Linked DNA regions of Homo sapiens: all the other regions are linked to region 4. The links come from fine-mapping of genetic effects on gene expression. A gene starts in region 4. Each other region holds a variant in brackets. All regions are shown on one strand. Distances are between the middles of the regions. Region 1 holds the start of TAS2R41 (taste 2 receptor member 41). Region 2 overlaps EPHA1-AS1 (EPHA1 antisense RNA 1). Region 3 overlaps EPHA1-AS1 (EPHA1 antisense RNA 1). Region 4 holds the start of EPHA1-AS1 (EPHA1 antisense RNA 1).

Region 1 (2,745 bases), 70 kb before region 4:
TTGCCCAGGCTGGAGTACAGTGATCACAGCTCACCGCAGCCTCTATCTCCTGAGCTCAAGTGATCCTCCCACCTCAGACTCACGAGTAGCTGGGACCACAGGTGCACACCACCACACCTGGCTGATTTTTTTGAATTTTTAGTGGAGAGGAGGTCTCGCTATCTTGCCCAGGCTGCTCTTGAACTCCTGAGCTCGAGCAGTCTGCCTGACTCAGCTTCCCAAAGTGTTGGGATTACGGACGTCACCACTCCCAGTCCAGTGAAATTCCTGAGTCTGTTTTTCAGATTGAAAAGTACATGTTTATTCAATGCAGATGTGACTCTGTGACATATGCTTGAGGAAGACAAGAAAGTCACAATGTGTCTTTTTCTAAAGGAATGATAAACAAGAAAAAAGTCTGGCTACTACTCAGACTTCAGAGAAGAGAAAATTGAAGTCAGAAATGTTAATGAGAAAAGAAACTGGGTGGTGTAAAGAAACCTTCCAGTAAACTTAATAAAATTAAAACCAGATTATCCAAGTTTGTGTGGAGACAAAGTATCTTCATGCAGTAAAGGGCAATCAGAACTCACAGCCCAGGCCACTGCCTGCCACAACTGCCTGTCCCTTGGGGCTCTCGTAGTAACCATGACATTTGTCCTCAAGAAGGCTGTCGCTTCACTATCCACATCTCAGTTCAGCCATAGAGGCAAATATTTGCTCTTAACTTTCTGAAAGGCAGTGGAGATGCGATGGCACAGTTAATCAACACTTTTAATCGAAGCCTTCCAGATAACAAAGGGGTACAAACGTAAGGAGTAGCACGACATCATATTAACATATTCTGAACTTCTGGGCAATACTGGCTCTCTGGGATCCATGGGACTGCATCTTTATAACATTCCAAAGAAGGGAAGCATGCTCAGAGAGTTCCCAGATTTCCTTGTCTCCTCCGCTTCCCAGAGGAGGAGCCCCATAACAGTACCCAGTATTCATCTACCTATGAAAACACCTCCATGTCAGTGGGCCACAGCTCTGCCATCCTCACCTTTCTTTTCCGGGGGTCTAGATAAGGAAACCATGCCATCTAGGCCACCCAGAAGCCCCTTGCCAACAACAGGAGCTGCGAGAACACGCTTCGAAGCTTGAGGTTGCTGAAGATGAGGATGAAGGGATGGACAGATATGCACAGGTAGACTGCAATTTGCCATGGCCAGTAAAAGTCGTTCTGCATGGAGATAAATTTTGCGGCATCAATGATCAGGGACAGAAAGGACAGAGCATAAAGAATGAGGAAGGAGATGAGGGACTTCAGAGCTCTGGTGTGAGCCTGGGTGCTGGGGTCCTGCAGGCTGTGCCCGTTGTGCTGCATTCTCTGAGTATGCCTCCTCAGAGAATTAATTAACAGCATAATTGAGACCAGAAAAACAGAAAAAGGAATTGACCAGATGACCAGTTTCAGGGATGGGAAATAGTATGTTTCTATCCTTGTATTCCACTTGTAGGTCATGTTCCCAGAAAATTTTCTAATTAAAAATTCTTGATATACAGGGTAGTTCACCCAAAAAAACAGCAGGGTTATGATGAAGGAGATCAGGACAGAGCCCAACAGGAGCCAGGGCACCCACCCT[G/A]GGAACCTCCACTTCAGCCACAGGAAGGTGGAGTGTGTGATGTTAGCAATCTTCACACAGAACAGGACACTGAGCCAGCTGCAAAACCAGAAGGTGGCTGAGTTCAGGAAGTGCCAGTGTAGATGGAAGAACTGTCGGCCGAGACCCCCAGAGTACTCGACCTTCTGGGCAGAGTAGTAGAAGTTGTGCACCGTCCCAACCAACTGCAGGCAGAAGCGGGAGGCACCCAAGCTAATGAGGATCATATCCAAGGGCAGCAACCTGCCATATCGCAGCCACTCCCTGCCCAGCACCAGCACAATGAAGCCATTCGCTGCAATCCCCAGAAGACTCAGCAGGCTAAAGAGCAACACGAAGAAGGCCGTCAGTGCTGCTTGCATTCTGACCCCTCCTGCAGTCCCCACTTGAGTGCCTTGGTCCCTGGCCTCCTCCCTGCCCCTAGCCACAGTCCTGTTTTTAATCTTTCCTAGGAGTGCTAAAGAGTGGTCAGGCTCTGCATCTGAACCAGAGCTCACTTAGAGAGGAGGATGCTCAGGCTAAAGAGGAGAGGTGTGCTCTTGGCTCAGACAGGATGCAAATTTATCCTAGTGTCAGTTACCACTAGGCCTGCAAATTACCCTAATTTGCCTTGTCCAGTTTTCCTGCATGCTGCCATGGTTAGTATCAATGTCTATGATTTTTCTGGGTCTCTGTGACTGAGTTCCATCCTCAGGCCGTATGAACACTCCTCTTCCCATCAGAACATTCTTAAGACTTTAAATATAGAGACAAGTATAGGAGATACACAGGAAAAATAGTGACATCAAAGAATTCTGTCTCAGTACTTCCCTGTTACACATCCATGCTTACCTTACTGCCTTTGCCCACAAATCGCTTCAAAATCAAACACTTCGTCTACCTCTCCATCCAGATCTCTACTTAGATCCTCCATGAATCCTGAGATGTAAATGATAATGGTGTAAACGGGTTTTGTATTTCCAGTGAGAGAATTCATTATCATGTGGTTGAGGGGCCTTCCGAAGCAGGACTGAGAGCCCCTGTTTCTTCCTGGGTGTTGGTGGGAGACTGCTCTCTGGTCCTAGAGGCCTCTCACAGTCTCTGCCAGGTAAGCTGTTTCAGCATGGCCACTCACGTC
Region 2 (2,745 bases), 29 kb before region 4:
CTACTAAAAATACAAAAATTAGCCAGGCATGGTGGCACACGCCTGTAGTCCCAGCTACTCGGGAGGCTGAGGCAGGAGAATTGCTTGAACACGGGAGGTGGAGGCTGCAGTGAACCGAGATCACGCCACTGCACTCCAGCCTGGGCAACAGAGCAAGACTCCATCTTAAAATTAAAATAAAATATATAAAAAATAAGCTTCAGTTTGCCCACAGAGACAACTGACGACAGCTACAGTTCTCTATAAAGGGCATACAGACCAAAATGATGCTTGGCAAATATTAGGGTTGCTTACCTATAGATTCTTGGGGCCCCATGAGGAAATGAGGCCACCAGCAAAAGTCAAGGTGATTGACGGCTAGGACTAGAGACTCACAGCAGTGGAGGGGATGGTAAGAACACAGACAGCAAGATGGAAAAGGGATTCTGAGGCATGGACAGAGGGGGAGAGAAAGAAGAAACTGGAAAGAGAAAGACAGTACCCAAACCTTATACATTCCTACCAGGATCATTCATCCCAGGACTGGTTACTGACACAGATAACTCAGGAGCAGAACCACCCTATGGCCAGCACCTTCCAAAGCCCTGTGAGCCAGCAGCACGTGGGCACTGGAGCTGAGGCCATGTCTTCAGGCCCTTTTTCAGTTTGGGGCTCCTCAGCACCAGGACGGTAGAGTGCAGACAGATGTTGGCATAGATTAGCACTTACCAGGCCCAGTGCCAGTGATTCTGAAAGTTTATGATTTTCAAAGCAGAAGCAAACAAGGACAGGAAGTACAATGTACAGAAGATGAGGGAAAAGGTGAGTGACTTTAAAGCCATAGTGTAAGCCTGGGTGCTGGGATCACAGGGGCCGGGCCTGAGGTCCCTCATCTACCCCAACTGCCAGCACAGTGAGACTATGAGCAAGACAGTGGACACTAGGAACAGGAGGAACAGAATCGACCACACAAACCCTTCATAAAGGAAAAAGTAGAGCTGAAATGAAGCCTGCACTCTATAAACTAGAGTTTCGTTTCTGTAGGAACTCAGGGAGACCTTCCTCTGACCAAACAGGATGTTCCCAGTGGCTGATGAGATGACTTCCAGGCCACAGATGATCAGGGAGCCCTTGATCAGCTTGGGCACTAACCGAGAGTTCCTCCACTTCAGCCAGGCGAAGGTGGGGTGGGAGAAAGATGAGATCTTCACACAGTAGAAAGCAGCAAGCAAGGCAGTAAACCACAAAGTGAGGGCATTGAAAAGGTCCCAGAAGATGTTCATATAGGGAACTGCACGCGAAAAATCTAAGGAGGCCAGGAGGTTGTTCACCATGGCTACCCCATGCAGGCAGAAACGGGAGGCAGCGAGACAGGCCACAATCATGTCACTTGTGGACAGCATCCGGCACCTTACCCACTCCCTGCCCAGCATTGTGACCAAGAATCCATTCTGCAGCATTGCAGCCAATGACTCCAGGCAAAAGATGGCTATGAAGATCAAC[G/A]TGGGCAAGGAGGGCATCTTCTCCAGGGAGGTTCTGCTAAGTCTCAGCTCCTACTGCAGAGGGCTGGGACACATCTTCAGGGAAAAACAGCCTCTCTGGCTGAGTCAAGCCACCTTGTTGACACCAGAGACTCAGAAGCCCTTGTCCCTGGATTCATAGAAAATCCCAGCCACCAGCAAACACCCCCAGTCCCCAGAATTTGAAAAGATAATTTCTGCAATCTCCTTTGGCATGCAAATCACTCCCAGCTCAATGACACCATCTCTATTTGCATAACCTGTATTTGCCTGTCCTTTCTCAGAGCCAGATGCAGAGAAACATTAACAGAATAGAGGCTGCTGGGGTGACTGAAAATACCCACATTTTGTACATGATGTCTTAACTGTACTATTTCTTTCCTAACTCTTCTTTAAAAGACATTGTTACTCTTATTGCCCTCCCCAAACCAAAAACCTTCCCTTCACGTCCTGCCTTAATATTTTATTCAGTAGCCTCTATACACTGCCTTAGCTCACTTCCCGAATGGGTGGAACAGAAAAATCATTCGCATGCACAAGGCTTCACATTACCAAGAAAAGGCCCCCTAACCACTGGCCTCTCATGCTGCCTAAAATTTCACTGTCAAGCTCCATATTGGAGTTCATGGAATCTCCAGTTAAAATGTGGATTTCTCTGATATGTTACCATCATCTGTTAACTGTTATCCCCTTGGCTCCAGAGTGCTTGATCAACCAAAAGTAATCAGTTCCTAAGAAGCCTCTGAGGAAATGAGAGAGAGTAGATAAATCATAATGAGAAGACGAGAAAGACAGAGAAGGGAAACTGACCCAGAGGGGACATCACCATAGGAGCTGGGGGAAGCAAGAGTTGGTGGAATGACAAGAGGAGCTCAGGGCAAAGCTGGGCCACAGGGAAGTTTTGCTTTATGTGGAGTGAGCCCTGTCCTATAACAATACTGAATATATAATAGTAAAAACCACCCTGCTGAAACACCTTGTCTTTTTTTTTTTTTTTTTTTTTGACAGTCTCACTCTGTCGCCAGGCTGGAGTGCGGTGATGTGATCTCGGCTCACTGCAACCTCTGCCTCCCGGGTTCAAGCAACTCTCCTGCCTCAGCCTCCCAAGTAGCTGGGACTACAGGCATGTGCCACCATGCCCCGCTAATTTTTGGATTTTTAGTAGAGAAGGGGTTTCATCATGTTGGCCAGGATGATCTTGATCTCTTGACCTTGTGATCTGCCCGCCTTGGCCTCCCAAAGTGCT
Region 3 (2,745 bases), 88 kb before region 4:
CTACATATCCATTCAAAGCCCCACAAGTCAGTACTATCAGGTTTTGTCTTATGCCCAGAAGCCCTGTTGATAAGGAAGAAAAAGAAATATACCACTCTGATATAAGGTAGAACTTCAAATTAATTAAATATTTACCTGGAAAGATCATTTTAAGTTAACAGAGACCATTTATACTGTAAAAAAACTAAGATACCTTTAATTGGTATATTATATTGTTTGCTTTTTGTCTTCTTTCTACAGTACCCAACAGAATGGAGACTCAAGAAAATAATATCATTATAGAAAACAAAATAGCTACGTCTTCAGGGAACATCAGTAAAGAGTATTCAAATTCATTATCCTAGCATATAGACAAGTTGATCTTGAAGTAAAAATTGTCCTGGACTTCATGTTTGCACTTGTAATTTATTAAGGAAAGACTTCTTTTCTAGAAATGGAATGCATAATGCCCGTTCAATGTTAATACATAATAAGGAAATTATGTAAAGTTTCAATTAGATGATTCTTATAAAGCTTTTAGTATTCATTGAATTTTAGTTACTCATCCTCATTAAGTGTTTTCCCCTAAGTCATTTATGAGAAAAGACCAAAGCATAGAAATGCCACTTTAAATTTTTCCTACATGTAGAGATAGGAAACAGAACAGTATTCTAACTCAGTCATGCCAGAGCTAATTCATGATGAGTTGTATCCGAGGCTGTTGAAGCTGCTGTCAAGCATAGCAGTCATCAGTTCCGGTAAAATGCTTCCCAGAAGGTACCTTTTACATTCACTGGGAAAGATGAGGAAACGTTAATTCTGGTAAAAATGGAATGGAAAGAACTGAATGGAAAGGTTAGTAACTGAGAACCAGAAATAGTAGTTCCCTGGGAGTGAACTAAATTATTGCTAGTAACAGGAAACTCTTGAGGCAAGGAGATACTGGGGTGGGGAAGGAGAGAGTAGGAAAGTGGTTAGTGGTGGGGCAGTTCCAAAGGAGTGAAAGAGGGGAAAGACCCAGGTGAGCAGCATGCCTGGGCCCACACAGATATCACAGGAAATCAATTATGTCCAAGGCTGTGGGTCTTTCATTGCCTTCTTTAGTGAAACTCCTGGTATTGGTCAATCTCAAAGGAAATGATTCTTCCCCTCTCAAGTCCAGTTTGGAACTCATGATGGAATGACTTTAGTCTCAGACCTCAGAATCTAGTA[C/A]CTAGAATGAAAGGAAAATGTTGTAATGCACACACTGAAAAACACAGACTTCTGCAGGACCTTGAGGTCCAATTCCACCATTTGGTTTCACAAACAAAGAAACTAAGACCCAGGGAGATTAGGTGACTTGTCAAAAGTCATAGAGCAATTTGTACCAAAGCCGGAGTAAAACCCATTGTCCTGCCTCTAGTCCAGGGTGTTTGCCACCATAGAATATTTCCAGATTTATTTTTTATGGTATAAATAGTCGAAAACCTATAGTTATATCTACTTTGCTGAGATACAGTTTTAATTGTATCTTTCCTTGAATGCTCACTTATGTTGCCCAAAGGCTATTCAGTAGTGCCAGGCATTAAGACAGCAAATTCATTTCCTAATATCACTATCTCAATGCGATACGTCTATATCAGATATGTGAATTTTTTAAATTTCATTTGGATTCCTATGAGAGAAAAAATATGTGTTTATTATAAACATTTAAAAATATTTGTAACAGTTTGTTCTCTCATTGTTATAAAGAACTACCTGAGACTGGGTAATTTATTAAGAAAAGAGGTTTAATTGACTCACAGTTCCACAGACTGTTCAGGAAGCATGGAGAGGAGGCCTCAGGAAACTTATAATCATGGTGGAAGGCGAAGTGGAAGCAGGCACATCTTACACGGCCAGAGCAGGAGGAAGAGAGACAGCGGGGAGGTGCCACACACTTTCAAATAACCAGATCTTGTGAGAACTTAACTCACTATTGGAAAACAACAAGAGGGAAATCTGCTCCCATGATCCAATCACCTCCCACCAGGCCCCTCCTCCAACACTGGGGATTACAGTTTGACATGAGATTTGGGCAGGGACACAAATTCAAGCCATATCAATATTGATAAGCTAAAAATAAGAAAACAAAAATATCTATAATCCTATCACCCAGAGATTAACCCACTGACATTTTATGGTCATCTTGCCTGTTCTTTTTCTACTTTTCAATCTTTATATACATCCAACTGTATATATATTATATTTCCTACTATTTTCTAACCTACTTTGTAAAAAAAAAAATCTAGTTACATATTTTCTGTAACCTTAGTGCTTGGAAAAGTAAGAAGGATGCATTTTTCTTTTTTACCAGCAGGGAAACATTCTTATTAGATGAGAGTAGGAGGTAGTGTGGAGGATGGTTCCCAACAGTTCTTTTCCTTTACACTGGAGTCATCTGTGTCAGCTCATACCGAGTCTGCCTTTGAAGTGCATCAGGGGTCCCACCTCTCAGATGTCATTTTCTTCTTCTTCCCCCTCATGGTGCCCTTGGTTTTCTTTTTACTGCTGCTCTCCTCCTTAACCTTTGGCTACAACTCTCAGTCAGAAGTTCTAGCAGTTTTCTCCATCCACAGACCTTGAGGTGGGGAAAGCTTCAGGCCCTGTGAGGTCCTGAGCTTACCTGGGCAGTGGAAGCAGCAAAGATAAACCCAAGATTCTTCAGGTCTTGCCCAAAGGGGAAGAGCATGAAGTTAAACAACAGTTCCCTAGTCCATTGTCATTACAATGACAAATCTTCCAGGT
Region 4 (2,500 bases):
TGTACCCCACCTTGCATTGTGGTCATCTAAGCCTCCCCTGCTAGAGGGTGAAGATATGACTCTTACCCCTTGCCTTCCCCGGCCCTATTACCCAGCTCTGGGGCCTGCACAAAGACAGAAAGAGGAATATAGGAGTGTAATTCAAGTCAGAGGTAGAATTAGGTTAAAAGCTGGATCAAGATTGGGTTGAGTTTAGGATTAGAATTGGGAAAAGGTTCGTCAATTCTTAATCCCACCTACTAGGCGGCGCCCGCAGTCTCATTCGGGTCAAGACGCCTCCGGTTCTTGAATTTGATTACCAGTCTAGCAAGTTTCTTTCCTGCCCTACTGTCCCTTTAAGGAGGTGAACCAGGTGAGGCCGGGACTCCGCCCCCGGCGCTGGCCCCGCCCCCCGCCCCCGCCCGGCCCGCCCGGCTCTCCTAGTCCCTTGCAACCTGGCGCTGCCATCCGGGCCACTGTCCCAGGTCCCGGCCCGGAGCTATGGAGCGGCGCTGGCCCCTGGGGCTAGGGCTGGTGCTGCTGCTCTGCGCCCCGCTGCCCCCGGGGGCGCGCGCCAAGGAAGGTACCGACCCCCGCCCCCGCGCCCCCAACCCCCGCGCCCCGCCCCTTCCCGGGGCCCGGCCAGCACCCCCCTGCAGAAGCCGGCATTCCTAGGGGCCATGTTCCCCGAGACCCTCGCCAGCTCTCTCGCTGTGCCCGACCGCCAGGCTATCGACTGGCCAGGCCCATCTTTGGTCTTTAACCCCAAGCGGCTGCTCTCCCGGGTCAGTCACCCCCACTCCCGCAGGCCAGCAATCTGCTCCTGGGAGTGGGGAGGGAATTCCGGACCCTTGCCAGGAAGTAGCACCTGCACCCGCACCCCTGCCTGCATTCCCAGACAGTCCCAGCTTCAGGTGCCCACCCCAGAGATCTGAGCCCTTGGAAGTTGAAGGTGGGAAGTCGCCTCCTGCCAACCTAGGCCAGGGACAGAGGGAGCTGCCTCCGGGAGAAGGGTTAGGACTGACGCCACAGGGGTTCCCAGTTGTCCGAGTCGAATATTCCATGTGAAAGTTGGAACACCCTCTCCGGCCTTACTCCCCCCCACTTCCCAGGCAGGTAGCTGTGCCTCTTATCCCCACTTCACGGCTCTGATCACTGGCCAGGTCAGGCCAAAGCAGGCTTCGGACAGTGGAGGTGAGCCTCCCTACCCAGGAAACCCCTTCTGAGGTCCCCGGTCCACCCTGCCCACTCCTGGCTAGCAGAGGTGAGCTCCTCCTGCCCTCCACGCGTTCCAATCCTGCAGCTGATGGGTGTCCCAGGACGCAGCAGCCTGGGTAACTGAGCGTCTCGTGGGGCTGCTCTTCTTGCATTGACTTTGGTCAAAGACCCAGCGCCCCAACCCTTGTCCCACTCTACCTGCCTTCCTTCACACACACAAAGAAGAGTGAAATCCCTGGAGCTCTTCACTCCTCAGTCCTGAGCCCTTTTTCTCCCCTAAGCCTCAGGAAGTCACAGCTTTTAGGAACAGGATGTTGCAGCCTGGGGCTGAGGCCCCAGAATGATTAATGTGGGCTGCAGGGGCACCTCCTCCCCCAGAGGTGACAGACTTCTTTTCTCCCCACTTTCAGTTACTCTGATGGACACAAGCAAGGCACAGGGAGAGCTGGGCTGGCTGCTGGATCCCCCAAAAGATGGGGTAAGTGTCGGAAGAGGGAAGGATCTTGGAAAACTCCTGAAGGCCAGTGGGAAATGGGGTGGAGAGGTGGGTGGAGGAACAGAGAAAAGAGCAGGAAAAACTGGAAGTGTCTCCTCAGGGAGGGGGAGAGGAGGCTGAGTCAGAGCCTCCTCAATGGGACAAGGGGTGGGGGGGTCAGACTTCACCTCAAGATGAACGCTTGAATGGCCTGGCTCCTCCAGTGAATACTTGGGAATATTGTGAATACAAGCTGATACTTGTGAGGGGGAGAGGAGCTCACATACCCGGGGAGAGAATGCACCATGCTGGGGATGGTTGAAGGCTGAGACCAGTGCTTTGCTTGGGGAGGGATAGAAAAGGCAGAAAAGCATCCTCAATCTGAGATCCATTCATCCCAATGAAGTTGCATTGATAGGTTTCAGGGGGTGGGGAAACCCCATGAAAGTGTACTCTAAATTCTGTATATGTAAGCGGGCATTTTTTTTTCTGGAGAGACCAGCCAAAGCTTTCATCAAATTCTTCAAAGGGTCTTTGACTCCTCCGAAGTTAAAAGCTGCTCCCCTAAAGGTTTCTGAGCCCTTAGCTCATCCTCCACACCTCCTCAGGCTGACTGCGTGCACACCATGCATTCCAGCTGTTTGAAAGTGTCAGAGCTTGTTCCAGTTCCCTTCCTTCCTTGGATGTTCCTAAGACTCAGTGAACAGGTTGTGAGGTGGGTCTGAGAGAGCATATTCAGACTCAAATGCAGAGAGCAGCTCTTATGATGTACAAAAAACCAAACTCAGTTTTTTCCTACTGCACTCTCAACACAAATCACTTCGGTGA

The links. PIP is the estimated chance that this variant, and not a neighbour inherited with it, causes the effect.
Region 1: its variant is the best candidate, but not a certain one, in a credible set for the expression of EPHA1-AS1 in whole blood (INTERVAL, PIP 0.70).
Region 2: its variant is the best candidate, but not a certain one, in a credible set for the expression of EPHA1-AS1 in whole blood (TOPMed, PIP 0.51).
Region 3: its variant is the best candidate, but not a certain one, in a credible set for the expression of EPHA1-AS1 in whole blood (INTERVAL, PIP 0.51).

Annotation. Positions count from the first base shown.
Region 1 is chr7:143,477,118-143,479,862 of GRCh38, reverse strand. TAS2R41 (taste 2 receptor member 41) reads right to left here and starts at 1,990. Exons shown (of 1, transcript NM_176883.2): 1 at 1,067-1,990. The coding sequence starts at 1,990. The coding sequence ends at 1,067. The region is part of intron 2 of EPHA1-AS1 (EPHA1 antisense RNA 1); the gene reads right to left. The variant G/A (reference allele first, on the strand shown) is at 1,611.
Region 2 is chr7:143,435,789-143,438,533 of GRCh38, reverse strand. The region is part of intron 2 of EPHA1-AS1 (EPHA1 antisense RNA 1); the gene reads right to left. It also overlaps the pseudogene TAS2R62P. Among named protein-coding and RNA genes, the nearest start is that of TAS2R60, 6.3 kb to the left of the region's middle. The variant G/A (reference allele first, on the strand shown) is at 1,483.
Region 3 is chr7:143,494,413-143,497,157 of GRCh38, reverse strand. The region is part of intron 2 of EPHA1-AS1 (EPHA1 antisense RNA 1); the gene reads right to left. It overlaps LOC105375547 (a long non-coding RNA gene), which reads right to left. Exons shown (of 2, transcript XR_928075.3): 1 at 1,762-2,745; 2 at 386-1,192. Among named protein-coding and RNA genes, the nearest start is that of TAS2R41, 18 kb to the right of the region's middle. The variant C/A (reference allele first, on the strand shown) is at 1,192.
Region 4 is chr7:143,406,786-143,409,285 of GRCh38, reverse strand. EPHA1-AS1 (EPHA1 antisense RNA 1) reads right to left here and starts at 1,473. Exons shown (of 5, transcript NR_033897.1): 1 at 1,400-1,473. It overlaps EPHA1 (EPH receptor A1), which reads left to right and starts at 430. Exons shown (of 18, transcript NM_005232.5): 1 at 430-562; 2 at 1,608-1,675. The coding sequence starts at 481. RefSeq lists an enhancer at 1-358.